Homo sapiens: one gene and its partners. The protein of the gene in region 1 purifies or fractionates together with the protein of each later gene. This does not show direct contact. Each region holds a gene or a part of one and is shown in the gene's direction. Other genes may lie near its edges.

The links.
Region 2: the proteins of FAM234A (region 1) and PLXNA2 purify together in Homo sapiens (affinity purification with mass spectrometry; one large-scale study listed by BioGRID and IntAct). This does not show direct contact.
Region 3: the proteins of FAM234A (region 1) and UBE3C purify together in Homo sapiens (affinity purification with mass spectrometry; one large-scale study listed by BioGRID and IntAct). This does not show direct contact.

The regions. Positions count from the first base shown.
Region 1 is NC_000016.10:237,774-241,424, forward strand, and holds part of FAM234A (protein FAM234A), read left to right. Parts: intron 1-2,436; exon of another isoform or gene 2,437-2,503; intron 2,504-3,651.
Region 2 is NC_000001.11:208,038,242-208,041,892, reverse strand, and holds part of PLXNA2 (plexin-A2 precursor), read left to right. Parts: intron 1-1,834; coding exon 1,835-1,901; intron 1,902-2,125; coding exon 2,126-2,272; intron 2,273-2,908; coding exon 2,909-3,068; intron 3,069-3,418; coding exon 3,419-3,522; intron 3,523-3,651. UniProt on the Homo sapiens protein: Coreceptor for SEMA3A and SEMA6A. Necessary for signaling by SEMA6A and class 3 semaphorins and subsequent remodeling of the cytoskeleton. Plays a role in axon guidance, invasive growth and cell migration.
Region 3 is NC_000007.14:157,208,331-157,211,981, forward strand, and holds part of UBE3C (ubiquitin-protein ligase E3C), read left to right. Parts: intron 1-3,651. UniProt on the Homo sapiens protein: E3 ubiquitin-protein ligase that specifically catalyzes 'Lys-29'- and 'Lys-48'-linked polyubiquitin chains.

The DNA.
Region 1 (3,651 bases):
TGATCTTGGCTCATTCCGCCTCCCTGGTCCAGCTATTCTCTTGCCTCAGCCTCTGGAGGAGCTGGGACTACAAGCACGTACTACCACGCCCAGCTATTTTTTTTATTTTTAGTAAAGACGGGGTTTCACCATGTTGGCTGGGCTCGTCTCAAACTCCTGGCCTCAGGTGATCCTCCCGCCTCGGCCTCCCAAAGTGCTAGGGTTACAGACTTGAGCCACCGTGCCTGGCCTATGTTATTTATTTTTATTTATTTATTTATTTTGAGATGGATTCTCGCTCTGTTGCCCAGGCTGGAGTGCAGTGGCTCCATCTTGGCCCACTGCAACCCCCGCCTCCCAGGTTCAAGCGATTCTCCTGCCTCAGCCTCCTGAGTAGCTGAGATTACAGGTGTGCATCACCATGCCGGGCTAATTTTTGTGTTTTTGGTAGAGACGAGGTTTCGCCATGTTGGCCAGGCTGGTCTTGAACTCCTGATGTCAAGTGATCTGCCCATCTTGGCTTCCCAAAGTGCTGGAATTAGAAGCATGAACCACCGCCCCCGCCCCTGTCCGAACATTTTTAAACCACTATGCAGCTTACCACTCCTGTGGGACAAGAGTGCCTGGTCCTATGATTTCAGCTGGGGTGCTGGCCGTAATCTCTGGGAATCTGATTAGTTAGCTAGGGCCAGGCCTAATTTATTAATGAATGCATTAATAAATTACTGTTCTGGCCAGGCACGGTGGCTCACGCCTGTAATCCCAGCCCTTTGGGAGGCCAAGGGGGGCAGATCATGAGGTCAGGAGATCGAGACCATCCTGGCTAACACAGTGAAATCCCGTCTCTACTAAAAATACAAAAAATTAGCCAGGCGTGGTGACGGGTGCCTGTAGTCCCAGCCACTCCGGAGGCTGAGGCAGGAGAATGGCGTGAACCCGGGAGGCGGAGGTTGTAGTGAGCAGAGATCGTGCCACTGCACTCCAGCCTGGGCGACAGAGTGAGACTCCGTCTCAAAAAAAAAAAAAAAAAAAAAGAAAAAAAAAATCCCTGGCTGGGCGTGGTGGCTCAAGCCTGTAATCCCAACACTTTGGGAGGCTGAGGTGGGTGGATCACGAGGTCAGGAGATCGAGACTATCCTGGCTAACATGGTGAAACCCCATCTCTACAAAAAAAAAAAAATTAGCCGGGTGTCATGGCACGTGCCTGTAGTCCCAGCTACTCAGGAGGCTGAGGCAGGAGAGTTGTTTGAACCCAGGAGGCGGAGGTTGCGGTGAGCTGAGATCGCTCCGCTACACTCCAGCCTGGGCGACAGAGCGAGCCTACGTCTCAAAAATAAAAAAAAAATACCATCCTGGCTAACACAGTGAAACCCCGTCTCTACTAAAAAATACAAAAAATTAGCCGGGCATAGTGGCGGGCACCTGTAGTCCCAGCTACTCGGGAGGATGAGGCAGGAGAATCGCTTGAACCCAGGAGGCAGAGGTTGCAGTGAGCTGAGATTGCACCACTACATTCCAGCCTGGGCGACAGAGCAAGACTCTGACTCAAGAAAATAAAAATAAAAATAAATAAAAATTGTGCCGGATGCGGTGGCTCACGCCTGTAATCCCAGCACTTTGGGAGGCTGAGGTGGGTGGATCACGAGGTCAGGAGATCGAGTCCATCCTGGCTAACGTGGTGAAACTCCGTCTCTACTAAAAATACAAAAAAAACTAGTCGGACGTGGTGGCGGGCACCTGTAGTCCCAGCTACTCGGGAGGCTGAGGCAGGAGAATGGCATGAACCCAGGAGGCGGAGCTTGCAATGAGTGGAGATTGCGCCACTGCACTCCAGCCTGGGTGACACAGCTAGGCCCCGTCTCAAAAAAAAAAAAAAAAAATTAACACTAATTTGTGGGGGAGTTGCAGGAAATCTGCCTTGGAATTCAGGAGAAAGGCTTACTCCATGGTATTTTCTGGACAGACTACAAAACTTATTCTGTGTAATAGTTGCCTATCAGCTGTTCGCCCTCAACTTATTTTTAGGAGGCATTGTGAGCCCTTCTCAAGTACTGTAAAAGTTTTTCAGTTCTGCAAAGGAAAGGAACTTGTGTTTGGGCTTTTGAGTGCTGACTGCATGTGCTGTGATACTTTTGCCTTTGTCATGGAACCATGATCTTTAAAGTGGTTCTGGAAAAATGGTTATGGGCCTGTTCTTTGTCTTGAGATTATTCTTGGTGGAGAGAGAAATAGCTGCTTGCTGTAAACAACTGGACACAGTAGCTGTCCTTGTCTGACATCTGCTTTGCTCAGCTGAAACATCTGCCTCATTGGCTGTTGTGGGTGTCTCTGAAGCTCATGTTGAATTGCTGTCAAATGCCCAGCGTGTTCTTGGTGGTGACACAGCCACATTGTGTAAATACATTTCTTAAGTCATTTGTGTGTATAGCAGCTGGATTTGGGGACAAGCATTTGGGCACACTCGCTACAAGATTGGTTAGTGATTATGGATGATGAAGTCTGTCGGAAAATTCAGATCTTGATTGTGAGTTATCTTACTTGTCTTTTAAGTTCTCTTTCATCCATTTGGCTCAGGGGACACAGCAGACATCTTCCTGGCCTTAAATAGCTTTCTTTCTGCCAGGTAAGAGAAGTATGATGAGTGCTTTGAAAGAAAAATACTGAGTTCTCTGGGGTGGAGTGTGGTTAACCAGGGTCAGTGGGGGTCACCCCAAACTTATTTAAGGCTTGAGCCGCTGCATCTGGGTGTATTTTTTTTTTTTTTTTTGAGACAGAGTCTTGCTCTTGTTGCCAAGGCTGGAGTACAATGGTGCGATCTCAGCTCACTGCAACCTCTGCCTCCTTGGTTAAAGCGATACTCCTGCCTCAGCCTCCCTAGTAGCTGGGACTACAGGCGCGTGCCACCACGCCGGCTAATTTTTGTACTTTTAGTAGAGATGGGGTTTCACAATGTTGGCCAGGTTGGTCTCGCACTCCTGACCTCAAGTGATCCAGCCGCCTAGGCCTCCTAAAGTGCTGAGATTACAGTTGTGAGCTACCACACCCAGCTGGGCTTATTATTTTTAATCCATTGACAAAATCTTTTCAGTTTCTGTTTCTAACTGGTGAAACTAGATAGTAACATTAATCTATAATCATAGTTTTCCTCTAAATATTAACTAAATATTTTATCCATTTAAAACACTGTTTTCTTCTCTTTTTTTTGAGACAGGGTCTTGCCCTGTTGCCTAGACTGGAATGCAGTGGTGTGATCTCCGCTCACCTCCCAGGCTCAAGGGAACCTCAGTCTCTCGCACAGCTGGGACTAGAGGCACATACCACCATACCCGGCTAGTTTTTGTATTTTTTTGTGGAGGTAGGGTTTTGTCATGTTGCCCAGGCTGGTCTCGAACTCCTGCGCTCGAGTGATCTTCCTGCCTCCTGCTGTAGCCTCCCGAAGTTGCTGGGATTACAAATGTATGCTACTGTGCCTAGCCTTAAAACACTTATCTTGACCGCAGAGGAGGTCTACACAAAAAGAAAGAAAAAAAAAAAGCTGTCTGCTTCAGGCTGGGCACGGTGGTTCACACCTGTCATTCTAGCACTTCGGGAGGCAGAGGTGGGAGGATCACATGAACCCAGGAGTTACAGAGGAGCCTGGGCAACATAGTGAGGCTCTCATTTCTACAAAAA
Region 2 (3,651 bases), on another chromosome or scaffold:
AGGTGTGATGGATGAGCTCAGACCCTTGCTCGGATCTCAGCTGGAGTCCCAGCTCTGCCTCCTGCTAGCTCTGTGATTTCTGGCCAGTGTTGTAACCACTCTGTTGTTTAGTTTCCTCCTAGACAAAATGAGAAAAATAATTCCTATCTCACAGTCTCTTCCTCCCGGTGCCTCTAGAGCTGTGCTGTCCGGCACAGCGGCCCCTAGCCACAGGTAGCTGCTACAAATTAAAATGAAATAGAATGTAAAATCCAGCTCCTCCATTGCCCTAGCACCTAGCCGCTTTCTAAGTGCTTGGTTGCCACATTGCAGCTAGTGGCCACCATACGGGACCGCACAGATAGAGAACATTCCCATTATCGCAGAAGGTTCTATTGCGCAGCACTGAGCTAGGGATTTGGACAGCCTAGAAGGCCGTGCCTTCTGAGCTCAGCTTCCTGGATCTGAATCACAGCATCCACTACACATGCCCACTGCATTTTTCCTGGCAGGGGAGAGGGTTGGAGACCTCAGTATCCCCTGAGCCCACCCTCTCTAGAGGCCGTGGGGAGCCGGGCACAGCTTTGGAGTCCTCTGGGCAGCAGGGGCTGGAGGGCTGCACCTCCGTTCACCACCCCTCCTCTTTAGCCTTCCTCTAGCAAGGTCTCAGGCTTCCAGGCCCCACGTGGGGTGAGGAGGGAGGAAGAATGGCTTTGCTTTATGAGTACTGAGCCCCCATCCTGCCAATCTGAGCATTAGAAACTCTCATTAAGAACTGTTGTATTTAAATTAGAGCTAATCTCAAGCACAATGCAGGGAGAGGGTGCTGGGAGGAGCCACGGGAGAAAGCTACAATTTTTTCTGCCATTGTCACTCTCTCCCAGGCCCAGATTGCTGAGCAGCCCTGGCAAATGCCTGGGATTTACTGCAACCAGAGGATATAATTTGCACCACGTGCAGGGAGTTAAAATACCCCTCCGGCATCCCCTTCACTGAGGGTCTGTCACAGCCGCTTTGTTCCTTCCCAAATCCCCAGATCTGTAGCCCTGGGATGGGAAGGGGAGGGGGGCCAGCCCTTGCATGAGCAAATCCCCTGTTGGCAAAACACTTAAGCACTGCTCTCTACCTGAGGGCTGGGATCCAAGACCCCACATGACAGCAATAATGACAGCTAATGGATAGTGCTTAGCAGGTGCCAGGCACTTTTCTTAGCACTTTACAAATATTAACTCATTCAACCCTGACAACAACCACTGGGGTTGGATGTTATTATGACTGTCTCCATTTAGTGATAGGAATACTGAAACCAGAGAGGTTAAATGACTTGCCCAAGGTCACACAGCCAACGTATGGCAGAATCAGGATTTGAACCCAAGGAAGTCTAACCTTGAGTGTTTTTGGAGGGGAAGGGACCAGGCACCTTCCAGATAGGCAAAACAGGGTACTCACACATGCAAGAAAGCCCAGAGGGACTGGGAAACTCTCTAGTTATCACCCTGAGGCCAGAAGTGAGTTGGGAGAACCGGTTCTTTATAGCCCTGTGGGATAGTGAGGTGCCTTTATCCACAGACCCTGTCTCAGATGCAGCCAAAGTTCAGAGCACCACGGACCATCAGGGCTGAAAAGGCCAACCTCTCCATTTTCATAGGAAATTGAGGCCCAGAAAGAAGCCACCCCTACCCCCAGGTCACAGTCTAGTTACTGGGTGAGCTGGGCTGGGACCCAGGTGTCCTGACTCCCGCCCTGCGTTCTCCCATGCTCCATTGTTCTCTTGGGAGACCTCATGGCAAGCCCAGGCCCCACCACGGAGACCCCTCTGTGAAGGACTGCCCCTTACCCTTTGTCCCTTCCCCAGGACAGAGTCTGTGGCTGAAAAGATGCTGACCAATTGGTTCGCCTTCCTCCTGCACAAGTTCCTAAAGGTGAGAAAGGGAGTGAGACGGGGCCTAGCGTCCAGGGCAGGATGGCACTGCTGCTTAGATCCTGGCCACAGGGCTGCATGGGGACCCCCTCCCTCGGGAGCAGGAACCTGGACTGGCTGTGCTAAAGCCCTTCCTTCCACTGGCCTCGCTCCGAGAGAGGAAAGGGAAAACGTACAAACCTGAGGAGGCCGTGCCCACACCTCCTGCCCTGTCTGTGCCCACAGGAGTGCGCAGGGGAGCCACTCTTCATGCTATACTGTGCCATCAAGCAGCAGATGGAGAAGGGCCCCATTGATGCCATCACGGGCGAGGCCCGCTACTCCCTGAGCGAGGACAAGCTCATCCGGCAGCAGATCGAGTACAAGACCCTGGTGAGGAAGCCGGAAGCTCCGGGCCCGCCTGTGTATCTTCTACTTCTGCCCCTTGCTCTGCCTTCTGTCCATAAAAGCAGTCTAGGGGGTCAATAAAGAGGATGGGAGGCTGGTCTGGGGTGAGCCCAAAGGACAACTAAGTGTACCAAGAGCAAGGTGGCAGGCCCGCCCACCCATCCCAAGCACTCTATGCCTCGGTTTATCCTAGATAATATTGGGGGAGAAAAAAGTTCACCCATCATTAGTTATTGGGTAATTGGTATTATGAGAAAGATGTATGTTGGTTCCTAACATAGAGGCTTTGGGGAAGTGCATGACTAGTCTCTGATACATGTAGAGCCATCTCTAAACACTGAGGGTGCCTCATTCCAGGACTATAGTCTCCCCTAAGCTGTCCAGGAGCTAGAAAGTAGAGTCCTGGTGCTTTGAGAAAGAAGAATTGGACACAATGACTCAGACTCTCATTTGGCAGATGTTATGAAGGTGAGGGAAACTGAGTCACAGACCAGAAAAGTACCCTTATTTCCCCTATAAGGAGGGTGAACTTTGGAAAAAGAAGATTCTGAGGTCCTGACCCTCTCCCTCAAACTACTCCTTCAACTCCTGTCCTGCTCACCCTCTGTCCCCTACTTGTAGATCCTGAACTGCGTCAACCCTGACAACGAGAACAGTCCAGAGATCCCAGTGAAGGTGTTAAACTGTGACACCATCACACAGGTCAAGGAGAAGATTCTTGATGCCGTGTATAAGAATGTGCCCTATTCCCAGCGGCCGAGGGCAGTGGACATGGACTTGGGTAGGAAACCTGGACTCAGAGTGTGAGGGCAGGGGTTGAGAGGTGAAGGAAGGGAAGCTGCCATGCACACAACCCTTGCAGGGGCATGACTGTGTCCTGGCCAGCTGAGGCCCGTGTGAAATGCTTCCCGCTTTGAGCGCTGCCTGTTCAGATGTGGCTGTCTCTGGGGAGGTCTACGTGTTTCCTCTGCTGCCTGGGCCCATGGAGCCCTAGATGTCTCTAGCCTCTGTTATTGGTACCAGCTTGAGGGGGCCGGGTTGCCAGGTCCCTAGAGAAGGTGCAATCGGGAGACACTGGCTCACAGCCCTCATCCCTCTCACGCCGCTCCCTGCACCACCCCCTCCACCCAGAGTGGCGCCAAGGCCGGATCGCCCGGGTCGTGCTGCAAGATGAGGACATCACCACCAAGATTGAGGGTGACTGGAAGCGGCTCAACACACTGATGCATTATCAGGTGAGAGGGGGTGTCTTTTCCCCTCTTCAGCTTCCCAGAATGTTCCCTTCCCGCTAAGCCTTGCTCTAAGGCCTCAAAAGTCTAAAAAGGATTTTCCTCTCCCTGCTTTCCTCCTCCTGCTGGAGCATA
Region 3 (3,651 bases), on another chromosome or scaffold:
CTCCCATAGTGCTGGGATTATAGGCGTGAGCCACTGCAGCTGGCCTATATACCTTTTTAATTAAGAAAAGTAATTTTAGTACTTTTGATTAATTAAGGTAATTTAATTAACTAAAATTACTTTCATTTTAATTTACATTTGCCTCACTTAAAACCATGTTTTTAAACCTTGTTACATGCATCTTTTCTATGTGGCCCTAACTACTTAACTGTGACACGATGAAATATAAATACAGTTTTTAAAATGTTTTTATTTTTCACTAAATATTTCTTAGATTTTATTGTTTTTTCAAACCTTTCAAAAATTGATTAACAACGTAAAGTAGGTCATTAATTTTTAATGCTAGTTGTATATAAATTATTTTAACATATCTTCGTTCTTAACCAGAAAGTGAAGTTTTGAGTTACTGTGGCTGGAATGTTGGCAGGAAACCACCACCAGTGAGAATGTAACTGTTGGGATGGAAAAAAAGAAAAGGAAAAGGGTGCTTGACTTCCCATGAAATTTCTGCAGCAAACACATCTAGTCAGCTAAAATTGCTCATTAAAGGAGTGAGAGCAGAAGAAATGCATTTTCCAAATTGAATGCTAGATTTACAGTCCGTTTAATACCAGCGACCTCTCGCACACTAATGTTCAGTTCGAGTCATCAGCTGTCCCTTTGGGTCTTTTATCACTGCTTTTGTCAAGCTATCTATTTAATTGAAAGAAGTTAATTGAATGAAAATGATCAACTAAGCTTGTATTAATATTGCTAATGGAACTTTCTTCTTGGCCATGTTTGGAGAAAGATGTCAAGCTAGACTTTAGGAAGGGCCCATTAATGCTTGCACTTAACCTGATGGGCTAATTAAGGAATGCTTATTCATCCTCCAAGTCCACGAGAGTCTCTCTCCAGCCCGTTCTGCCTGGTTTTACAACACATTTCTCTTAGGAGCATGAGCATTAGCAGCAGCAGCCGTAACTGATAATGTTTTGATTGCACTGAATACAGTCCTAATGCATCGTTGAATTTATAATTTGGGCAGATTGATGTAATATATGTTTGCACAATTTATTTTAATTACCTATTTCTGTATTCCTAAGTAAACTGGGACGGTCACATGGTAAGCCTTTACTATATCCTTTCTTAAAGATTGACAAATTTGCAATTTTTCTATGTTAAAAAATAAGCAGTCTCACCTATTTAAAACTTATAATTCTTACATAAGCTTTTCCTGGATGTGGGTGTTAACGGTAGCATATTTGTTTTCCTTTCAATATTTGATTAAACCCTGGGGTCTTTGTTAATAAAGCTTTCCATGATGTGCAATATCAGGTGTTGTGTATGATATCAGATAATTTCACTGTTTTATGGCATCTGTTGAGAGTTTCATAATTTCCATGACAGGCTTATCTTTAGTATGTAGAAATCTCTGAACTTAATAATGCCATATAAGATATTTTCCACCCTGGCCTTATTTTGTTTTGGTTAAGCGTTAAATGAAAAGTTTGTACAGAATTTTTTTATGCCTCAAAATGACTCCCTGCCACTTTATTCATCATTGAAAGTTTTAAGAGTTAGGGCAAGGCCGGGTGTGGTGGCTCACGCCTATAATCCCAGCACTTTGGGAGGCCAAGGCGGGTGGATCACGAGGTCAGGAGTTTGAGACCAGCCTGGCCAAGATGGTGAAACCCCATCTCTACTAAAGATACAAAAAATTAGCTGGGCGTGATGTACGCCTGTAATCCCAGCTACTAGGGAGGCTGGGGCAGGAGAATTGCTAGAACCCGGGAGGCAGAGGTTGCAGTCAGCCGAGATAGCGCCACTGCACTCCAGCCTGGGCGGTAGGGTGACTCTCTCTCCAAAAAAAAAGAGGGTGAAAATTTACCTTTTTTTTGTTGGTGGTGGTGATTGTTTTAGGTTTGAAATCAAGTTGTTGTAAGACCTTTTGAGTTTAGAATTGTTTAAAGACCTTTTTTTTTTTAAAGGATTTCTGTTCTTTGGTCACCTGTCCCCCAAACCATTTTATGCTACCTGCTATTGAGCTGAGCCCCCAAAATAAAAATCACTGCATAATTTTTGAGTAATCAGCTGCTGTTAGCTGTTCTTTTAAGAAAATACTATCTCTATTATGAAGTTGTATGAACTTACACCTCTGTAGTTAACTGTGTTTTAGGCAGTATTCTAAGAGTTTTGCATATATTCATTTAATACAATAGTTCTGTGAGAAAGATACTATAATTTGTTTTACAGATGAGGTCATGTATATGATGGTAGAACCAGCTGCTATTCTACACTCCCCTTCTGAAAAGAATACAAATTGTATCAGCATTTTTCATATTATTGTTGTGCCAAATTTGAGTTGAAGAATTCGAGGTAGAATCAACCAAAGAACGCAGAAGCGTTTAGCCCATGATCTCCTGCCTTCCATTGATTTTGACAGAATTGCAAACGATGAGACCTGACTCCTTCAACACCGACCATTTTCATTTTTCAGTCCTATCATGGTCCTCCCAAAGTCATTTGTGTGAGAGGCTCTGCTGGCTGGTCACAGAGCATAGAATTTTAAGTGGATAGAGTCATCTTTCTTTGTCACTGTAAGAATTGAGGTCACTTTCTAAGCCCTGTCTTGACACTGCTAAAACAGTTTATGCATTTATCAAATTTATAAACTCCTCTTGAAGTGTAATTTAGAGCTATAATTACTTTAGCTTGATGAGATAGGAAATCCTGTTTTGAGATGTCTGTGTGCATCCACCAAACTTAACAGGAGTTTCCTCCTGTGATAGGGAAACAGGAGGAAGTGGCAGGGAATGAGGAGGAAGGTTCCCATGCCCTCATTATCCATATGTCTGGAGAGAGAGAGAGAGAGAGAGAGAGAGCCATACTATGAGTGATTTTTTTACTTCCTTAGTGGTTAAGTTGTATTTTTTCAGTTCCAAAAAGCTATTTTTAAAAAGTAATAAAGCAACAGCAGTGCCCTGTTAATATAATCCTAACATGCGACCATTTGACTATGTTACAACCAAGAGATCCAAAGCTTGTAGCGCTGTGCCTTATCCTTTTCTGTTATTGAAGATTTTGATTGATTTTGTTTTTGTTTTTTGACTACTAAAGTGGATGCTATATGCAGTAATTTTATAGTGTTTTAAATATGTGCTGAAGAATACTGTTTTTCAAAATACTCCAGTTTTTAACCCGTTTGTGCCAGAGGTTGCGAATTTTTTGTGTGAAAAATCAGGCCTTGGCAATGACCTTGAGCAGTAGAATATAAATCCCACAAGCTTAGCGTTCCAGTAATGGAACACTAGGCATAAATGGGTTAACAAGTGGTAACTAAGGGCTATATAAAATTTGGTTAACCCTTGACAGCAGCAGTGCATACCAGATACTTCATGACTTTCATAGGTTAGAGTGTTTTATTCTCAGTTATTTGAACACTCACAGTATTCATCCCACCCATAGTGACACAGCTCTATGCTAAGGGATCATAAATGAATTCACACAGGGTGCCTGTTCCTGCAGTATCACCACGTAGTGAAGGAGACATGCATTCAGCTAATGACAGTGGGAAACAGCAAACCACAGAGGCCGGTCCTGTGGAAGCACACAGGAGAGAAGCACCAGCTGCTGCGTCATCTGGCACTTGACTCACTTGAGGAAAACGGT